Regions from separate parts of the Homo sapiens genome. Here region 1 is linked to region 2. A link means that fine-mapping ties the variant in region 2 to the expression of a gene that starts in the linked region. Tissue or cell type: prefrontal cortex. Region 2 holds a variant in brackets; the other region holds the start of a gene. All regions are shown on one strand. Distances are between the middles of the regions.

Region 1 (5,118 bases), 110 kb after region 2:
AGCCTGAGCAGCCAACCTGAAGCAGATAGGCTCCATACCTCAAATGTCCACCTTCAAACAAAATAAAGCTTGCCATCTGCACACTAGATCCTTTCTATCATAGCAACAAAATAAAACAGCTGCTCTCTCTTCATTTGACTCTAGAAGAAAAAGAGATAAGTATCTCCATGATTGAAAGTGAGATAACCAGATGAGATTTTTTTTAAGAGCTCAGCCTGTGCCCTTGACTTATGGATTGTCCCCCCACCCCATGGAAGTCAAATACCCACATAAAAATACCCCTGAAAAGCAATCTTGGACCATTAAAAATATTTTAAACCTAAAATAAAATTCTAAGAAAGTCTATGACTAAACTGACCTTTCTTAAACAAATGTAAATCTTATTTGTGTGTTTTTCTAGAAAAACCATTCGGGGTAGGGCACAGTGACTCGTGCCTGTAATCCCAGCATTTTGGGAGGCCGAGGCAGACGGATTGCCTGAGGTCAGGAGTTCGACACCAGCCTGGCCAACATGAAGAAACCCTGTCTCTAATAAAAATATAAAAATGAGCCTGGTGTGGTGGTGCGCCCCTGTAATCCCAGCTAGTCAAGAGGCTGAGGCAGGAGAATTGCTTGAACCAGGGAGGCGGAGGTTGCAGTGAGCCGAGATCAAGCCACAGCACTCCAGCCTGGGCGACAGAGATTCTGTCTCAAAAAAAAAAAAAAAAAAAAACGAAAAAAAAAAGAAAAGAAAAGAAAAACCATTCGGACTCGAAAAGTACTGCTGTCTTTCAGTTGGTAAATAATAAAATTTGGACGTGAGGTAAGAAAACAATTGGAAGATACTGCGATCTAAAGAAGCCTGGGGGAGGGAGGCGAGATGTCTGGTCACTTCCCCAGTTGCACGACCTTAGGCAATTCCTAGATCCTTTGAGTCTATCCGGGTCTGCGCAGGTAATGACACCTCTCAACCCAAAGTATGAGAGCACCCTGGCCGGTGAGAGGGTGCCTGGGAAGTGGGGAATCTGCTACAAAACGCAGGGGAAGCTCGCGGGGGCCCTAGGATAAAGACCAAGAACCGCACAACACCGACTCTCTCCTAACACAAAACTGTCTGCTCCGAGAACCAAATATCCCACCTTCCCGCGGCTCCGGAGGTACCCGCCACTGTTTTATTTTAATCCACACATTCCCAGTCCTGAGCAATCCTTACCCCAGAGCTCGATTTTCAGGGAACCACAAAAGACAAATAGGCCAGAATAATCTAAGTCCAAGGGAGCCCTCCCGGCCACTTACAAACAGGGTCTTCCATTTTCAAGGGTCTTTTCAAACGGATGTTGGCAGGGACCGTCTTCTCGATCAATTCATCAATGCTCTAAAATTAAAACGCAAGGCAGAGGAAAGTGCCTCTGAGTTAAAAGAGTCACCTCTGTGTTTTGCGACTACAAAGCCTTGTGGGAACCTCATTGAAATCGCCTAATTAGGGTTCTTTTTAAAAGAAAAGGAAAACTCTGAGCAAGCCAGAATGATTTGGAGGAAAGAAAATCGTGAAGTGGGGTGGAGATTCCGCCACTCGGGGTTGGATTTCAGTTGCAACCGGAGCTAACCGGTAAGCCCACTCTTAATCAGGGGGTCTTCCTCCTCTTGCAAAGTTTAGGTCCATCCACAGGGCCACTTGGGCTGGGGGTGGTTTAAAAATGTACACTTTTGAGGCACGAAGACTGGGTGCAGGAGAAAGTAAGCTGTTAAGAAGTAAGAAGGCACGAGGACCAAAGGCACGAATTTGCTTCCACGCCACGGCCCGGGACCCAGGGTGCGGGGACCACGCGGAGCGCAGCAGAGCTCAGGGTAGGAGCCGGGAGGCCGCGCAGGCAGAGCCCGGGCAGGGCGGAGGGGAGGCCGCGGAGGGCCGGGTGGAGGTCCTTACCGCCAGCCCCAAGGTCTGCAGCATCTCTCTCTGGTCTTTGTCCCCAGGGCCGATGTGCCTCCGAGCGAAGTCGTCGTGTCTGGGCAGAAGGCGCTCCAGGAGGCGCGAGGCCCCAGCCGCGGCGCTGTCCCCGCCGCCACTGCTGCTGTCCCGGCTCCGCGGCGCCCAGCACGGCCCCGATCCCCCAGCCAGGCGGCGGCCGCCCCCGACCCCGCGGCCCAGGCGCAGCCCCCACGCCCTGGCACAGGACTGCATGGCCGCGGCCACCGTCCCCTGCCCCGGCCCGCAAGGGTCAGCCGCGCTCTTGGCCCCTCTCCTGGCCTCGGTCCCCCGGGTGGCGGCTGCGCCCGGCCTGGAGCCCCTTTCGCTGGACAGTCGGCCGGACAGATGGATGGACGCTCGCGGGCAATGAATGGGCGCTGCGCTCAACCAAGACACTCGCGCAAAGTTGTGGCTCCACCCAAGGCACCTGCTCCGCACACTTTAAGCGGCGCCCTGGAGGCGGGAGGTGGGTTGGGGCCAGGAAGCCCTTGGCCAATGAAAGTAGACAGAGGGGGAGGGGGCGGAACAGTTCCCGCCCCCGCCCCCTCTTCCTACCCTCTTCCCAGCCCTTCCGTGGAGTCCCGCTTCCCCTGGACCGGAGGCTGCCATCTCCAGTCCTACCCACTCCGACGCTGGCTGGTGCCGGGGGCCGGGACGCTCCGTACGCCGCCCGCCAGGGTGTGGAGCCGCACTGGGGCAAGATCAGGTGGGACAGCCCAAAGACTCCGGGCCAAGTTCCTGGGGGACTCGGCGGAGATGGAAGATGATTCTCGAAGCTCTCCATTTCCTTAATTTTGAGGTATCTTTCTCTGTCACATTTCATCTCAGGGAAATTAATATGGGCAGATGGCGGTTCTTTTATCTTTGCGGGAGCGTGATAAAGTTACTCAACCTCTCAGAGCTTCAGTTTTCTCATCTCAACAGAGCTGGATGGGATTTTAAAAAGAGATTATATGTACATGGAAAGCACTTGAACAGTAGATTTGAACACCCTCTCTATATTTCTTTTCTTTTCTTTCTTCCTTCTTTCTCCTCCTCCTCCTCCTCCTCCTTCTTCTCACTCTCTCTCTTTCTCTCTCTTCCCCCCCACCACATGTAACGCTATGGCTCACGCCTGTAATCGCAACACTTTCGGAAACCGACGCGGTAGGATAGCTTGAGCCCAGGAGTTCGAGACCAGCTTGGGCAGCATTGTGAAACCCTGTCTCTACAAAAAATACAAAAATTAGTGGGGCGTGGTTGCGTGCTTCTGAAGTCCCAGCTACTCTGGAGGCTGAGGTGGGAGGATTGCTTGAGTCAGGGAGTTTCAGGCTGCAGTGAGATGTGATCGCACCACTGCACTCCAGCGTGGGCCACAGAACGAGACTCAGGAAAAAAAAAAAAAAAAGAACTGTGTGTGTGTGTGTATATGTTTTTTTAAATATATGTACTGTATATACATATACGTGTGTGTGTAAAACTACAAAGGATATTTTGTTGTTGTTTTTGAGACGGAATCTCGCTCTGTCGCCCTGGCTGGAGTGCAGTGGCGCGATCTTGGCTCACTGCAACCTCCACCTCCCGGGTTCAAGCGATTGTCCTGCCTCAGGCTCCTGAGTAGCTGGGACTACAGGCACGTGCCACCACGGCCGGCCATTTTTTATTTTTATTTTTAGTAGAGACGGGGTTTCACCGTTTTAGGCAGGATGGTCTCGATCTCCTGACCTCGTGATCCGTCATTACAGGCGTGAGCCACTGCGCCCAGCAAAAGTACAAAGGATATTAAGATAGACATTGTTCACTGTCGTCTTACTTTGAAAGTTAGCCATCTAGAACTGGATTTTTTGTAAATGTACCATCTCCAGCTGTCTCATGACAGTTTTAGCAAGAGAATGAACTTTTAAAATTCCAGTTGTTCTAATATGGGGAAGAGAGGACAGAAGTAATCAGAACATTACTTGTACTTAGACTAGGGGAAAATAAAACCTGTTCTCTTTCTTGCTTATCTGCTAAGTTTCCTCCTCCAATCACCCTTAACAGATTCTGGGCTCCGTACCCAGGAGGCACAGACTATCCAGAGAGGCAGGAAAGTAGAGATGGAAAAGAGGGCAGGAAAATACACCACAAAGAACAGTAGGTAAAATGTCTGTATGGCAGACGGAGGCGGGTGGTGAGCTAGGACGGCTGGGCTGAATGTCTCCGAAAAGTTTTTCGGCCATTTGGAATTGAAATTACAACCTTCATAAAAGTTGGGAGATCTCCTCAGTGCCAGATGGTGGGGGTTGTGGGGAAGGATTGGAGGGAGGAGGTAATCTGCATTTATTCCTATTCCTGTCTATGTTGTTTCTATGTATCAGAGGGACTGGAAGCCAGGGAACAATAATTCCCAGATCCCTTTGGCTCCGTGGTGATGGATGTTATTTGCCTTCTGCCAAAAAAAAACATGTATATATACACACATATATGTATATGAGAATTGGGGCCGGGTGCGGTGGCTCACTCCTGTAATCCCAGCACTTTGGGAGGCCGAGGCGGGCAGGTCACTTGAGGACAGGAGTTCAAGACCAGCTTGGCCAAGATGGCGAAACTCAATCTCTACTACAAATATGAAAAAAAATTTAGCCAAGTTTGGTGGGCGTGCTTGTAGTCCTAGCTACTCAGGAGGCTAAGGCATGAGAATCACTTGAACCTGGGAAACAGAGGTTGCAGTGAGCGGAGAGCGCACCACTGCACTCCAACCTGGGTGATAGAGCAAGACTCTGCCTAAAAAAAAAAAAAGAGAGAGAGAGAGAATTGGGAAATGGAACAAAGGTAAAAACTGTTTTCTTATTTTCTGACTGCAGCAGACAGATGCATGGACCACTGCAGACATGACATGCTTCCTTACCAGCACCCCATCTTGAGGTAGCTGGGAAGCTGTATCCACCAATGGGAATGTCCTGCAGTTCCCCAGCAGGAATTTCTGTGTACTAGACTAGAGCTTCAGTGGTTGACCTGAAGATAGCGTTGGTATTCCCTGGTTTTTGCTCTTCCAGTTCTTCCAGTGGTTTTGTATGCACCCATTCCTGACATTTAATTCTCCTCTGCTTGAAATGCATTGAGTGTTTTTTGTTTATTTGTCTGTGTGATGTTGTGAAATACATATCTGGTATTCATCCCATTTCCTGGCCTGCAACTCCTAAAGTCTTGGG
Region 2 (5,203 bases):
ATGCCTGTAATCCCAGCATTTTGGGAGGCCGAGGCGGGCGAATCACGAGGTCAGGAGATCGAGACCATCCTGGCTAACATGGTGAAACCCGCCTTTACTAAAAATACAAAAAATTAGCCAGGCGTGGTGGTGGGCGCCTGTAGTCCCAGCAACTCAGGAGGCTGAGGCAGGAGAATGGTGTGAACCCGGCAGGTGGAGCTTGCAGTGAGCCGAGATCGTGCCACTGCACTCCAGCCTGGGCAAAAGAGCAAGACTCTGTTAAAAAAAAAAAAAAAAAAATTACCAGTTGTGCCCAGGGTACAGGAGGAAACAAACCAAGGGGCAAGATAGAAGATAACAGAGAAAGCCTATTTCATGGGGATATGAAGAAGGTATTTTTGAAATGATGAAATACAGAAAATGGCTAGGATGAAATACAGAGAATGACTAGTAAAGCAAGGTGACTGGGGACAGGGCTTCAAGGGGCAGTGCCTTTCAGGATAAGATCCGGGGCAGGGAAAGACTGGCACAAGTGTTAGGTAACACATGAGCAATTAATAGTGAAGGACAAGTGATTCACTTGACTCTTAATCGCCTATGTTTGGCTCTGCTATGTTCTGGGGGCAAGTAATGGATAATAGCCATGGAAACAACCTTGGCACTCAACTACAAACACTGTGTAAAGTAAGTAGAAAAGAATTGCTGTTTGCTTCCATTATTTACTGTCATACACTTGTCCTTCCTAGGAAGGGGCCGTCCCAGGGCCTGATGGCTAGCTTGCACTAAGCAGGGTTTCCAACTCAGGAAGGGCAGAGTCCCCAGGTCTGCAGTTGCCATGGCAGCAGGGTATCCTGTTTTGGCTGATAGGTACTGGAGCCAGTAAGGCTGGGTCCAAATTCTGCCCCTCCCTCTTACTGGCTGGTAGTGGGACTTTAGGCATCTCTTCATACCCTTCCCCACATGTGTAAGAGTGGAACATTGTGAGGGTCAAATGAGGTAGTATTTCAAACACTTAAAAGAATACCAAGCTGGGCATGGTGACTCACGCCTGTAATCCCAGCACTTTGAGAGGCTGAGGTCAGGAGTTGGAGGCCTGAGGTTAGGAGTTCGAGACCAGCCTGGCCAACATGGCAAAACCCCGTATCTACTAAAAGTACACAAATTAGCTGGGCCTCGTGGTGGGCACCTGTAATCCCAGCTACTCAGGAGACTGAGGCAGGAGAATCACTTGAACCTGGGAGGTAGAGGTTGCAGTGAGCCGAGATTGCACCAATGCACTCCAGCCTGGGTGACAAGAATGAGACTCTGTCTCAAAAAAAAAAAAAAAAAAAAAAAAAATTGCCTGATACCTGAGATGCACTATTTAATAGATATCATTTAATTATTGTGTAAAAAAGGAACCGTGAATCCCATCACTTCTGTACTGCTTTGTTAGGCTAAAGTAAATTGTTGTATAAACTTTTTAAATATAAAAATAAGTGGAATACTTGCAGATAATTCAATAGAGCACCCAGATCACTAGCATTAAAGCCTAGGGATACTAAGTAATGTTGGAGGAAGCAGCCATGCAAGAAACCAAGTAGTCATGATTAGAGCATTTGCTACTTCTAAGGCAAAGTCATTTGTGGCAGGCATGCTAGTTGCCAACCTAAAACCCATTCTCCCCACCTTTTTAAAAATTAACATACTCCTGATTTTGTTTGGGGCAGTCACATGCCCAGGTAACAGACTTCCCCACACTTTCTTGTAGCTGGGAGTGAGATTTGAACCAATTTTGGCCAGCTGCAGCAGTTACTGAGTGGAACATATTCGAAAACATTTCAAAAGAAGCAGATTTGGGTGGAAGCTGCCTTTTGCTCTTCTTTTTTTTTTTTTTTTGAGACAAGGTCTCACTCTGTTGCCCAGGCTGGAGTGCAGTGGTGCAATCTCAGCTCACTGCAACCTCTGCCTCCCAGGTTCAAGCAATTCTCCCACCTCAGCCTCCCAAGTAGCTGGGACTACAGGTATGCACCACCATGCCCGGCTAATTTTTTGTATTTTTAGTAGAGATGGGGTTTCACCATGTTGGCCAGGCTGGTCTCCAACTCCTGACCTCAGGTGATCCTCCCGCCTCAGCCTCCCAAAGTGCTGGGATTACAGGCATGAGCCACCGCGCCTGGCCTTTGCTCTTCCCTTTTAATCCTAACTAGAATGGGTATGTCAGACGCCTGGAAATGCAACAGCCTTCTTGAGACCATGCGGATGAAAATTTTATGCAAAGGAGGGCAGAGCGGGAAAACTGAAGGAGCACCAGTGCTTGGCTTATTACCTCTGGACTTAAATGAGAAAAGATAAATTGCTATTTGATTGACCTTCCATAGCTGGAGTACAGTTACATGCACTCTAACTCAGTTCCAACAAAAAGGGTCAAAGTGGTTTTCACTGTTGACCAAGACAACTGTTTCTTCAGCCAGTCGAAGGCAAAACTGATGATGTAACAATGGCTATTGGGTTGGGTGTTCTCATTGCCCTTCAGCTCCCACTGAATCTAGGTTGTAACGGTGGTAAAACTATAAAGTACACCAAGAGAAAGGCATTCTTCCGATCAAGATGCTTTTATTAGAATACTAATAAATGCAGATTAAAAAAAAAAAAACCTCACACAGAAAAAGAGGA[G/A]AACACTCAGAAATGTGATTACAGATTAGGCATATTAGAGGAAAAAGAGTTCTTCAGGGTATACAAAATGTAAACATTTGCCCTGGGATTTCCCACAGATGGCACAGTCCACATGGACTCTTTTGGAACAAAAAAATGTCTATTAAGTCTCCAGGATAGCCTCTATGACATCTGCAAACTTGCCACATTAAAAGTTAAAGTTCCTAAAACTTTCTACGCAAAACACAAAATGGCTCCCAATCCAGGCAACTGGCACATGTGGAAGCAGAATACCAAAGCAAATCCGTCTTCCAACCATCAGCTTCGACTCCCTCCAGCTACTGTATTTACATTTACCTTGACAGAGATTACAGAGATATACACAGTATATAAAACTCCTACTTGAGGCTGGGGTGGGAGATGAAATCTTTCTTGCTTATCAAATGCTCTGGGGAGAGGCATCAAATCAGTCCTTTAAACTTAGGGACAGAGGACTAAGAAGACGCCCTCTTTTGTTCAGAAAATGGAGACTCATAAACTTCCATGGGTGGGCAGGTACAAACCAGGTGCTGATCTCCATATATGTCATCAATCCGGGCAATCGTTGGCCAGAATTTGTTCTCTGGTTTCACGAAGGGCTGCAAAGGACAAAAGATGGAAATGCTGTGAGATGTTCTGGGAGGTTTCTCTTAGGGCAAAGGAGGTGGCAATGCTAGTCCCACAACCTAAGACACCATCAGCCCAGCAAATATTCTGAGAACCTAAAATCCAACCCTACATTACCATTTAAAAAAAAGAGGCATTTCCCAGGAGGCGTGTCCCTGATCACCACCCCTGTTAAGCATCCCTATGTGCTGTTGATATCTGGACCAGTTTATAGCAAAGTTGTGTTTGAAAGACTTCAACTGCTTAAAGAAGACTTTGGAATCTATGTTTATCTGCCCATTATATCCTTAAGTTTGGATATTTAGCTGACCTTCTCTTTTAACATAGGTCTAATTTATTTGCTATGTCATTTTCCATACAATTCAGTTGATTTAAAAGTTAATTTCTCGGCTGGGCGCAGTGGCTCGTGCCTTTAATCCCAGAACTTTGGGAGGCCAAGGCAGGCAGATCAGCTGAGGTCAGAGGTTCGAGACCAGCCTGATCGACATGGAGAAACCCCATCTCTACTAAAAATGCAAAATTAGCCAGGCATGGTGGCACATGCCTGTAATCCCAGTTACTTGGGAGGCTAAGGTAGGAGAATCGCTTTAACCTGGGAGGCAGAGGTTGTGGTGAGCCGAGATGGTGCCATTGCACTCCAGCCTGGACAACAAGAGTAAAACTCTATCTCAAAAAAAAAAAAAAGTTAATTTCTCATACTGTGTATTAAAATAAAAATTTGAACGATTAAAAAAAAAGCATCAGCTGGGCGTGATGGCTCACGCCTGTAATCCCAGCACTTTGGGAGGCCGGGGTGGGCGGATCACGAGTTCAGGAGATCAAGACCTTCCTGGCTAACACAGTGAAACCCCGTCTCTACTAAAAATACAAAAAATTACCCGGGCATGGTGGCAGGCGCCTGTAGTCCCAGCGGGAGGCTGAGGTAGGAGAATGGCGTGAACCCAGGATCATGCCACTGCACTCCAGCCTGGGCAACAGAGCGAGACTCCGTCTCAAAAAAAAAAAAAAAAAAAGAAAGAAAAAAAAAGCATCATTTTGTTTCCTCTCCTCTCCAATGAATACAGGATTTACCATTCTCATTATGTTTTTATACTATTACTGCATAGATCCATAAACAGCACATAGCATAATTTGGCACATTTTTAGCCTTCTCCCTACCTCACTCAAACAGACTACACAGAACCTTCTCCTCCATATAAGAATCAGAAAGGAAAGGAAGGTTGCACTGGGCGCCATCTCCCTGTCCCACAGTGGAGGGAAACACATTGGTCCACTGGGCAGGACTCGTATTCAGTTTTCCCCCACTCTGTTCCCTATGGGTTCCCAGATCTGTGGTTGATACTGTGTGACCTCGCCTCTGAAAGCCAATTTCTTTGCTCCTCATTCCTCTTCAAGACCCTTATTTCACAAGGTGCCCCACATATGGTTTCTGTAATCATGAGGCTAAGAGCGTACACCCGTCAGGATAGGAGCTGGCCCATGCCTTCCCAGCTGGCACATTCAGATTCAGAGAACTTACGAGTGGGAATGCTGCCACCTCTCTGGAATAAGGCCGGTCCCAGTGGGAAGATGTAACGCAGGTCAGGGAGTGTGGAGACATCTGAGACAGAGACACGGACAGAGGAGGGGTCAGAGCAATACACTCTCTTCTCCTCCTACCCTGCACCTCAACCGTCAATCTTCTGACAGGAGCCCAGGCAGAGAAAGCTGTTGTTTTCTTTCAATTTAGGGGGGTACAATGTGATTTATAATTGTGAAATATTTTAAATATCAGAACGTTATGGTAATAATCATCACATCCACCACCCAGTAAAGTCTAATGAGCATTCTGTCATATTTGCTTCATCTTTTAGAAAAAATTACCTACACGTTTGGTGCTGCCTGTATATCCCCATCCCAGTGCTAACCACTCTTCTGAATTCGG

Direction of the effects. Alleles are on the strand shown, and positions count from the first base shown. SD is a standard deviation of normalised expression in the study named.
In carriers of allele A in region 2, the expression in prefrontal cortex of the gene that starts at base 2,391 in region 1 tends to be lower than with G alone (small effect, 0.27 SD a copy in BrainSeq).

Evidence for each region. PIP is the estimated chance that this variant, and not a neighbour inherited with it, causes the effect.
Region 1: GLDC starts here. The variant in region 2 is fine-mapped to the expression of GLDC in prefrontal cortex (BrainSeq, PIP 0.95).

The regions. Positions count from the first base shown.
Region 1 is chr9:6,643,339-6,648,456 of GRCh38, forward strand. GLDC (glycine decarboxylase) reads right to left here and starts at 2,391. Exons shown (of 25, transcript NM_000170.3): 1 at 1,907-2,391; 2 at 1,276-1,354. The coding sequence starts at 2,161. RefSeq lists enhancers at 1,601-2,158, 3,139-3,248, 3,299-3,398, 4,385-4,940, 4,941-5,118 and silencers at 1,839-1,908, 1,949-2,148, 2,219-2,468.
Region 2 is chr9:6,529,910-6,535,112 of GRCh38, forward strand. It overlaps GLDC (glycine decarboxylase), which reads right to left. Exons shown (of 25, transcript NM_000170.3): 24 at 4,799-4,879; 25 at 2,558-3,251. The coding sequence ends at 3,108. Among named protein-coding and RNA genes, the nearest start is that of GLDC, 110 kb to the right of the region's middle. The variant G/A (reference allele first, on the strand shown) is at 2,635.